2 separate regions of the Homo sapiens genome follow, and region 2 is linked to region 1. The links come from fine-mapping of genetic effects on gene expression. A gene starts in region 1. The other region holds a variant in brackets. All regions are shown on one strand. Distances are between the middles of the regions. Region 1 holds the start of CEP41 (centrosomal protein 41). Region 2 overlaps CEP41 (centrosomal protein 41).

Region 1 (5,378 bases):
ATAACTCAAAAAATTTCTCAAATCCTGACCAGCAGACAAGATAAATATGTGGCAAACTGCCATTCTCCTCACCTATCTCTCCCACCCCCATGATACACAATATTAACATTTTTATTAATATTTTGATAGACAAATCATAACTTTATACATTTATGGGGTACAATTTGATGTTTTGGTATATACACACACACACAATGTGGAATGATTAAATCAAATTAACATATCCATCAACCCACTTATCTTTTTTTTGAGGTGAGATATTTGAAATTTACTCTCATAAAATATACAATTTACTCTATTTTGAAATCTACAATATAGTTGAACTTTGGACAACATGGGCTTGAACTGTGCAGATCCACTTATACCCAGATTTTCTTCTGCCTCTGTCACCCCTAAGGCAGCAAGACCAACCCCTCCTTTTCCTTGCCCCTTAGCAATGAAGACAATTAGGATGAAGATGTTTATGATGATACACTGCCACTTAATGAATAGTAAATATATTTTCTCTTCCTTATGATTTTCTTAATAATAATCTTTCCTCCAGCTTACTTTAAGAATTCAGTACATAATACATATGAGATACAAAATATGTTAATCAAGTGTTTCTGTTATCAGGAAGCCTTCCAGTCAATAGTAGGCTATTAGTAGTTAAGTTTTTTTGCAGGGGGGAGGGGAGTAAAAAGTTGTACATGGATTTTCTACTGGGGGTTATGAGTCTGCTGTAATTATTATTAACTATAGTCACCATGCTGTGCCAGAGATCTCAAAAACCATTCCTCCTGTTTAACTGTAACTTTGTGCCCTTGGATCAACATCTTCCCATTTCTGCCCTCCTTCCCCCCACCCTCCAGGCTCTGGTAACCACCATTTTATTCTCTACTTCTATGAGCTGGACTTTTTAAGATGCCACGTATAAGTGAGATCATGCAGCATTTAGACATTACCAATTGACCATGGCTCTCTTGCAGGGCTTAGACTCAGCCTTACAGCTTTCTCAGCCTAGTACCAGGCAGCCACCAAGAGATGAAACAGTTACAACTCCTATTTGGGATAAAGGCTAAGAACCTCAGCAAGGCAGAGAAAGCCTGGACTCCTACAGGGGCCTGTTCTGAGTTCACACACTCCTTACCTTCACTTGGGCTGTTCTACCCGGGATGATGCTTCACCTGGCTAATGAATGGCCTTGCCACCCCTTCCATCTCCACAACCCTTCTCTCACTCCCTCAGTTGAGTACTACCTATTTTCTCGTAACATCTTGCTCCCCGACCACACTGTACTCAAATTCTGTTCACAGGCTCCTTCACTAGACGCAATTTATTTATTGTTTATTTTTATTTTTTTGAGACAGAGTCGCTCTTATCACCCAGGCTGGAGTGCAATGGCACGATCTCGGCTCACTGGAACCTCCATCTCCTGGGTTCAAGCGATTCTCCTGCCTCAGCCTACCGAGTAGCTGGGATTACAGGCGCCTCACCACCACGCCCGGCTAATTTTTGTATTTTTAGTAGAGACGGGGTTTCGCCATGTTGGCCAGGCTGGTCTCAAACTTCTGACTTCGTGATCCGCCCGCCTCGGCCTCCCAAAGTGCTGGGATTACAGGCTGAGCCACCGCGCCTGGTCCACTATACGCAATTTATTAAAGGGCAGAGGCCTTGTCTTCTTTGTACGTCTAGCACCTACTGCACCGTGGAAGTTTCCAATAACGTTTGTTGAAACTGCCACAAATGCAGCAGGGGACTAGCGGTGAAACAGATGAAGAAACTGAAGGGTCCTATGGAGAGAGGGGTAAGCCTAATGTCCTATTTTGCCCGTTTTCCAAAGGTTTGGTCAGCTTACTCCTGCTCTTCCTGTATCCCCACAATCAGAGATGCTGGCTGGCTTTCAACACGTGCCATTAGTGTGCAGCGCTTCCTTTGTCTTTTCTGTTTTGTAACTGTCACTCCGAGACTGTAAGCCATTTGAGGGCAAGGGCTGTGTCTTTGGGTACTTCGCTCCTCGCAGTCACAAGTACTGGCGTGCGTACGCGGGGAGAGATCGCTCCTCAAAACGGGGTCCTGAACGCTGCCCCGCGGCCCCCAAGCCCGGCCCGCCCCGCCCCTGCATCCCGACCCCTCCTCACGCCGGCCCCTTCCCGCCTTCCGGGCGGCGGAAGTCGCTGGCTGCTCTTCCCTGCCCACATGAGCCTTTTCCGGTGCGCCCGCCCCCTCCGGCTCTCCGGCCGAGACCTGGCCCTCACCTCAGGGTTCCCAATGTGCCTCCGGAGGGACATATTTTCTCCAACCGACCACGTTCGGGGTTCTAGCCTCACGGGTTGCCTCTAACCCTAGCTTCCTACCCCCACAACCTTGTTCAGCCGCCTCCCTATACCCTCTTCTCCGATTGGCCCGTCTTCCCCGGCCGGCCAATGGGGGCCCCGTTTACTCTCTCATCTCAGGGTCGCAGAAGGGCAAGACGCCGCTCAATGGTTGCCAAGGGCAACGCGGGACGCCGGCTAGCGAGGCCTTTTGTTCTCTGGGCTGGGGCTCGCCGGCTCCAGCCTTAGGGCGGGAAGAGAGGCGCGGGGGGAGGGGAAGGCTGGCGCCTGCGCAAAGCCGGGGGCGGGGGCAGTGGCTTGAGAGCCGGGACAAAACACGAGTTTTAGCTAATGTGGAACCATAAATACAACACAAGACTCCCCATCCCCCAGCTCCGTTTTATGGCCGTTTCAACCAAACATCTGGGCTACTGATTCCACAACAGGGAATATTATATGGGCCAGGGTTGTTCAGCAGAAATGGGAGAGTATGGTTTATTATTTTCTGGTTAAGTTAATATGCGAATTATGCAAAATACATGGGTAAATACAGTAATTATCGGTGCTTTAAAAGCTTTTAGGCTAGCTATAGAGCGACATCCTTAATTGCAAAGCACACGCGCTATTCTGTGGTTCATCGTTCATTTAACAAATACTTAATAAGCACCTTATGAGAAAAGCTGCAGTAGGTCTTGTGGAGAATGGGAGGATGACTAGGACCCAATCCCGTCGTCATGGAAACCATTGTGACTCCTGCCACCAGCCACCACCTGTTCCCATTCCGGATCTGAAAATGAAGTCCTAGCACCTTTACAAAACAATTACACACACAGTTTGACTTGGCTCCTAAATGTCCCACCAAATCCATCAAAATTATTATTTCCTTTTACATGAAAGGAACAACACAGTAACCCTTTGTCCTTTGCTCTAAGTTGTTTTTCCAGGAATGGAGAAAGGTTACTCTGAGCAGTTCATACTCGCCAGTTGTCTGTTAGTGAATAATAGCACACATTTGAGCTACTTCAGGGTCTGTGAGATGACCCATTCAACAACATGGCCTCACATGCCCTTGTTCTCTTAGGCACTTCAGCAACCCAACCTTAGGGCTACACCTTGGATCATGTTGCCAGTCAGTGCTGCTTGACCAGAATTTTGAATTCTGGCCACAGCTGCTTCTTGGACTTTTCATGTCACTCTTTCATGTTTATTAAGTTTTGTCTTAATTTCCATAATCTTTGCCAGTTCTTTAACCCCTCTAAAATTCTCAGTCTCTCACTCCTCTGCTAAGGAAGGGTTTGAAGGCTGCAAAAAATTGGAAGGAGGCAGAGGGAAGAATGTTAATCTAGAAGCTTTTGCATAGCAAGCAGAAACTTCTAGATTCATTAGTATTTAGAATGTATGCTTACCTGGTGCACCTTGTGGGTAACCATAGAGATTATGGATAGAATAACGGGAAAGGAGAGAGGGAGATGATAGGGGACTACACTCAGAGGTGGTGAGAAAGACAGAAAAGGAGAGATTTAAAGACGTGTAGGTAAAATCAATAGTATACATGAGAAGAGGTAAGGGGTGCAAGGAATAGAAATTCATCAAAGATGGCTATAGTTTCTCTAACTTGAGGAACTGAGTAGATGGGCGATAATGCATTAATCAAGTTAAAGAACAACAGTCAAAAAGCCAAAACAGCAGAAAGTACAAGTAGGTCCAACAGTCCATTCAACTTCCATTCTTCAGTGTTTTGGCTCACTTCTTTGTACGGTTGTCTCTCTTTTGTTCCAGAGAACATCTGGTTTACTTGCCTCACTAGTCATCGTGGTTGTCACATTTGGACTGCACAGGAAGCATTATAGAGAGATTATAGAACCCGGCTGGTTCTTGGATCCAACTGACTGTGTGTCTGTGTGTCTGGGTGGGGTAATTTAAATACATGTTCCCTCCCCAATCCCTCAATTCTGATTCTGGCCGGCGGGTGGGGAGCGGGGGGTGTTGTGGTCCAAGGAGACTCTCCTTTAAAAGAGTCACCCCTTTCCTTCACATTTGGCCTCAATGGAATCCTTGGAAAGCTTAAAGCTATAAACCAAAAGACTTTTAACATCATGTATTTCTCTTTAGGATTCCTTTTGGATCCTGCTATGCCAAAACTGGATCAAAACGAACGCCAAGTGCTTACTTTGAAAAAATAGGCAAATGGTGGTGGCAATGGCTCACGCCTGTAATTCCAGCACTTTGAGAGACCAAGGCAGGAGGATAACTTCAGGCCAAAAATTCAAGACCAGCCTGGGCAACACAGTGAGACCGTGTCTCTATTTGTAAAAAATAGGCAAATGGTACAAAATGATAACTGATAAAAGAAAAACATCCAATAAACATATCAAAAAAACACAGAGCACCGGGCGCGGTGGCTCACCCCTGTAATCCCAGCACTTTGGGAGGCTGGCGGATCACGAGGTCAGGAGATTGAGATCATCCTGGCTAACACGGTGAAACCCCGTCTCTACTAAAAATACAAAAAATTAACGAGGCGCGGTGGCGGGTGCCTGTAGTCCCAGTTATCCGGGAGGCTGAGGCAGGAGAATGGCGTGAACCCAGGAGGCGGAGCTTGCAGTGAGCCGAGATCACACCACTGCACTCCAGCCTGGACGACAGAGCGAGACTCCGTTTCAAAAAAAAAAAAAAAAAAATACAGAGCAAGATAACTAGATCCCATTTTTCAACTATCAAATGTACAAAAGTTTTTTTCTTTAACAATAATGCTTAGTGCTGGCTAATGATTCATGAAACAACATGATCACATATTGTTAGTGCGAATATAAAGGAGCATGATCATTTTGAAGAATAATTTGAGAGTAGGTATTGAGAAGTCCTCAAATCTTAATATGCTAAGAATTCCTCCTAAGGAAATAATTGGACAAATGTACAGACATTACATCCATAGATGTTTACTGGAAGTATATTTAAAATGATAAAAATTGAAACAATCTAATTGATCATCAATTTAAAAATGATTAAAATAAATGCTGGCATATCTATACAAAGTAATCTTATGGAATCATTTAAAAGTATGTTTCAAGGCATAATTAAGGC
Region 2 (5,378 bases), 46 kb before region 1:
TTAAAAAAGAAGCTGGATACAAAATATTGAGTCTGGATCCCATCTTGTTTAAAAGACACACACACACACACACACACACACACACACACACACACACACAAACATGCTTTCTCTCTCTCCTTCTCTTTCTCTTCCTGGAAGGATATATCCCCCAATAATAATAATGATTAACCTGGGTAGTGGTGGTGGTAGTTTTCCTTTTTATGCTTCTCAGCATTTCTCGCAATGAGCTTCTATAATCAGCTTTTATAACGGGCAGGGAGTGAAGGGAGCTATTTCGAACACAGTAGATAACATGTGTGTAAAGTTACCTAACATCGGTGTATTATCAACATCAAACAGCTAAATGGCCATCTTAGTTTTTACTCAGATTCTTTTGATTTGTCTAAACTCATTTTTTTCTGCTCCGGTATAATGTTTCATCATCTTGCCCGGAACGCTGCAGTTTGTCTTATCTTCAGAAAAATTCACACTCCAAGATACAGCTGGAAGCAGCAGTGTTTCTACCAAAGGAAGAGATTACTCAGCTCATGCAGTTGGGGGCCATTCCCCATCCTACCCCTTGTTGTAGCTTGATGAAAATTCCCAAAACCCCTTCCTGCTCACATTCAGTTCTTGTAGCTATCTTGGGAATTGATTATGCTAATGCCTATTCCCCAGGGCCTTTGAAAATCTTTATTTTCAAATGAACTCATTTTACTTTTTACTCAGACCATTACATATGGTTCTCTAATGGCCTGTGGGCCCAATATTGGTGATCTATGAGAATCCTTAGGGTAGCCTCTTGAATTAACACTCAGATATGCACAGCTAGCTTTCTGTCTTTGGCCTAAAGTTAAAATGGGAATGTCATTGAATACAATCCAGATATGACCTCACTGGTCCTTCATCCAGTGCGGGGCGATTCATCACCCTGGCAATTGTTTTGCAAGGGCGAGTGGGATGAGGTGGATTTGAAGATGCACAGGGACTCTTGCTTTAAGGACTACAGCAACATCATTCTGTGAACACACTAAGACCCAGATGCTACTCAGATGAAGCTGATATGACTAACCGTAACATTCAAATTGGCCAAATCAAGGAGAAGCTCTCAGAAAAGCACAGAGCATGCATCGTCAAATCTAAAAAACTGTCAAAGGGTAATGAATTATTCCCCAAAGCTTTCAGGATCTGCATTAATTTGGCAACTCAAACACTGAGCATCATCCAACAACCTCAGAGACTGGGATTGCCAAATGTTTATTGCCAAACTAAAAGGAGAAAATGGAAAGTCTTCTGCTTAACCACAGTAGTGGTATTGGCTACATTTTTAGAAGAGTGCAGTAGAATAAGGGCTCTGCTGACAAGGACTGGGGCAAGGAGGTTTGCCTCTGCTTCCCCCGGGAACTCAGGCCTATGGCCATCGCCAATTCATGCAACTTATGTTTCAGCCGAAATCAGAAACATCACCACAAAGGAAAGAAAAGATCAGGCACAAATCATATCAATATGGTTTACTGAATGAATGGCTAGACCTATCAGGAAAACAGCCTACTTTTTTCCCCCTACAATATAATTAAAAGTTTGTAATTCTCATTCCTTAAGTGGTACTTTGCAAGGTGTCCATTAACAGACAAAATAACCTCGGAAGCCCTGGAGCACCTGTCTTCAAGATAAGACAGCAGACACAGGCGGTGGAAATGTGGAAATACGCATTCCCCAGAGCAGATGTTTCAGTTCCTGAATTTCCATCGCCTTTTGTGCAGGCAAGCGGAGGAAAGTTTTCAAAAGAATCTCGGCTGACTAGGAGGGAAGGGAAGCCAATAGCGAAGGGAAAGGTACATTTTCACGGTAAGTTAGAGGCATCACCAAAGGAGAACATGGTTGTGCCCACCCAGAGTGAGAAGCATAGAGCGGAGTGGCTGAAAGAACACCCTCTGGAGCCACAGTTCTCAGGCTGGCTCCTGGCTTTTCAAACCCTTGGTCAGAGACTGAAGGCAAACCTGAGTCACTTAATTTCTACCCGAACCTCAGTCTCCTCATCTGAAAATGGGGGTGCCTGCCTCATCAGACTGTTGTGGAAATTAAATGGGTCAAAACATATAATGAAGAATCTAGGAGCAAAGTAAGCTCTCCACAAACATTGGCTAGTATTATTATTTTCTGGAAATCTTCAAGATTTGAAACAAAAGAGAAAACCTACTCTTAAGATGGGGGTGGTGTGTGACCTTTGCGTGCTGAATTTGGGAGGATACTTTAAGCCTGGCAGAGACAGGGTAATAACACCCCCAGCAGCTCTCTGGGTACTTCCTGTAGAGGGAGAT[C/G]TAAAAACCTCAGGGTTTTGAATGCCTCGCCCACAAAGGCAGGATACACAAGGGGGACAGAAGATAACGAGCTTTCTGGGTCTCCAGAATGACAGACTAGCACTGAGTGGCCACCACAGTGGGCATCACATCCAAACTTCAATCTTGACAGGTTCAATTCATTTATTCATGAACACTTATTAAGGGCCACTGTCACAGGGTTGGTGATTTTCACTCTCTGGGAGCTTATAGTCAAAATAATTGCAACAGGAAGACATATTGATATCCTTTAAAAGATGCAGCCCATCCGTCCACAGCATTTGAGAAGTGGCCTCTCTTTGCCTCACATTTTACCAGGTGCTTCAGGATGTTACACAGGTGAGAATTTGCTTCTGTACAGAACAAAGAGGATCAGCAACAGAGAGGGGAGCCATCAGGGGATCACAATGTGACAGACACCGTTTCGAAAACACATAAAATCATGCACCGAATCCTGTTCTGCCTGAATTCAAGGCTGACAAATTTCCACCATTACATTTTTTATGTTGTAACTGACCTGTGTATCCATTTAAAGATGTCATAATAATAATTTCAATAATTATTGTAAATCTAGGAAAGTATTACTACCCAAATGTATTCTGAACATTTTGGAAGCACAATGTTATTTATTGCTTTTGCATGAAAAAATAATTGTTAGTGAAAAATTAATGGACCTGCATGTAAGTACTCAACATGCTCACATAATTAAACTGGTGAATTATATTCCACACATTTGCGGTGTTTCCTGGGGAAAAAAAAGTATCGTGGGAGTTAAATCTTTGAAAGAATTGGGAAGAAAATAAACACACATTAAAGACACTGAGAACGTTTTAGAACTGGAGAAAGAAAGGTTCTTACTGATTATCTTCAGAGTAGAGCAAGAAGGTGGTCATGGATTTAAATCCAGGTGGACAGAAACTAATTATTCGCTCTAAAAAAGTCAGATAACATAAAAGACAGAATCTATAGCCAATAAACAACATGACAGAAACCAAAACCAACACAAGAAAAATTACCTACGTATTTCTTCCTAGCCTAGGACTCTGATTTCACTTACATTCCACAAGGGAATTAGAGAAAACACGATTTTTTGTTTTGTTCTGTTTTCTTGGTCGAGTAGCCTAAAGTCTTAAGAATTTTTGTATAATTTAAATAGCACCACAGGAAAAATCCCTGAGCAACTAATGAATGTTATTTGGTCTCTTTTCATTCGGATTTATACCAAGCCCAATATGATCGTGCTGGTCCTGGCTAACCACTAAAGGTTAAAAAAAAAAAAAAAGATAAAAGATAAAATGAATGCAGGCCATTTAAATCATTCCATACTTTTTCAAGAGATTGAGCCTGACATTATTACAGCCCAGGGTGTTCCTTTTGTTTTCAAATAAGTAATGTAGCTTTCTCCTTTCTCTCTCGCTTTCTGCTTCTTTTCTTCTCTCTGCCCTCCCTTCTTCCCATTTCCTTGCTTCTTTCTCCCTTCCTTTCTTTTTTTCTTTTCTCCCTTCCTTAAACACAAACCCCTTTAAAGCATTTAAGGTATTATTTAAACTTTGGCCATCACTGCTGTTCAGGGTGCTGTAGTTGTACATCGATGAAGCACCTTCTGTCTCAGGGTTCACAAGCCCCAGACAAGGGCAGCTAGTCAACCCCTGAGACGCTGGTAGGAAGCCATGATCCAGTTGTTGAAGGTGGCTTCAGTCCCAGCCTGAGCAGGAAAAGAAATCCAGGCTTTCTGACTGGAGAGCTGAGGCCCCCTGCCCTAATTGGACTGATTTCCTGATTCATTTATTTTTTTTAAAAAATGCTTTCCTAGGAGATGCAGCAAAAATCACACCAGTCTCCTGTGGCTCCCCCAAATCATCTCGACAGAAAAGAAGAGAGAAGTTGGCAGTTTTCAGCATATTAATAGCAAACGACAAATTAGTAACTATGTACTTTAATCTTCAACATTCATAATTGCACAAAGCATCACTGGTCATTTAAATAATACATGTCAATTAATCTAATGAAGAAACTGGCAAAGTAGAATGTTAAAAGCAATACCTCGAGCACGTAAAGAATGTTTGATATTAACACTTAACATGCAAAACGCAGATTAGAACAGCTCTTTTGAGCATGGTTATTTAAAATCCTTACCAACAGGGCAAAGCAAGCACTGTGGAGAAATACACATAAATATATCCAACCTGCCAGATCTCTCAGGTGAGTGCACACCAATTCTAACAGGTCTGGCTGACCTGGCTTTCCACATATATACAGTGGTTTCTAATACTCCAAAGTTGTCTGACGATGGGAACGCAGAATCGGAACAAGGAGGGAAGACCATTTACTTTCAAAATAGAATCCGGCAGGGAAGTCTCAACTCCTGACAAGTCACCTTTAAAACAGCATAACCAGAACTTTCTTACAGAGAAAAATCTTTTTTCCTTAAAAATGTATATGTGGCAAAAATGGCTGAAAATCTTGTCCATGCTAGGGGAAAGCTGAGTGTGGAAAAATGTGCATTTTTCTATCTATGCTGTAAAGAAAATACAAAGCCAGAGCATTTTGGCATTAGCAAAGGCTGAACTAAGTTCTCAGGCAATAAATTTATGGGGAAACATGACAGGCTCCTCATTAAAGCTATGTGTACGTTGGCTGAATTTTATACAAGATTCTTGAATCTTGTGGAAAATTGGGCATGGCTTGACATCTGAACAATGTCCCTGGTTTGTTTGATTTCTAAAGCATCGGAAAATGTTGCACTTTGGAAATCAAGTAGAGAAGAATAAACACACTCTAAAACAGAACTGGGCTGAATCTGAAAGTTATTTTTCCATATGTCTCTATGAGATATTTATTACGTTTATTTCTCATACAAACACAGCCCCCATGCTAGAAATACTGTGGTGCATTTTTTTTTTTTTTTTTTTTTTTTTTTGGTGGCGAGAAAATAGTACTGTTAAGGCAAATCTTACCCCGTAGCAGTTACCAGCAGGACAGGCAATTTTCAGTGGGCTTTTCAGAAGCTGGTTGCCATGACAAAGAGCACAATTTATTCCTCAGTCCCTTATCACA

What was found. PIP is the estimated chance that this variant, and not a neighbour inherited with it, causes the effect.
Region 2: its variant is fine-mapped to the expression of CEP41 in blood mononuclear cells (TOPMed, PIP above 0.99). The same link has a PIP of 0.9 or more in NK cells.

What each region holds. Positions count from the first base shown.
Region 1 is chr7:130,438,697-130,444,074 of GRCh38, forward strand. It overlaps CEP41 (centrosomal protein 41), which reads right to left and starts at 2,320. Exons shown (of 11, transcript NM_018718.3): 1 at 2,238-2,320. The coding sequence starts at 2,270. LOC105375505 (a long non-coding RNA gene) reads left to right here and starts at 3,058. Exons shown (of 3, transcript XR_927973.3): 1 at 3,058-3,992; 2 at 4,074-4,193; 3 at 4,407-4,530. RefSeq lists an enhancer at 2,006-2,760.
Region 2 is chr7:130,392,293-130,397,670 of GRCh38, forward strand. It overlaps CEP41 (centrosomal protein 41), which reads right to left. Exons shown (of 11, transcript NM_018718.3): 11 at 1,479-5,378. Among named protein-coding and RNA genes, the nearest start is that of CPA1, 14 kb to the left of the region's middle. RefSeq lists an enhancer at 2,390-2,449. The variant C/G (reference allele first, on the strand shown) is at 2,304.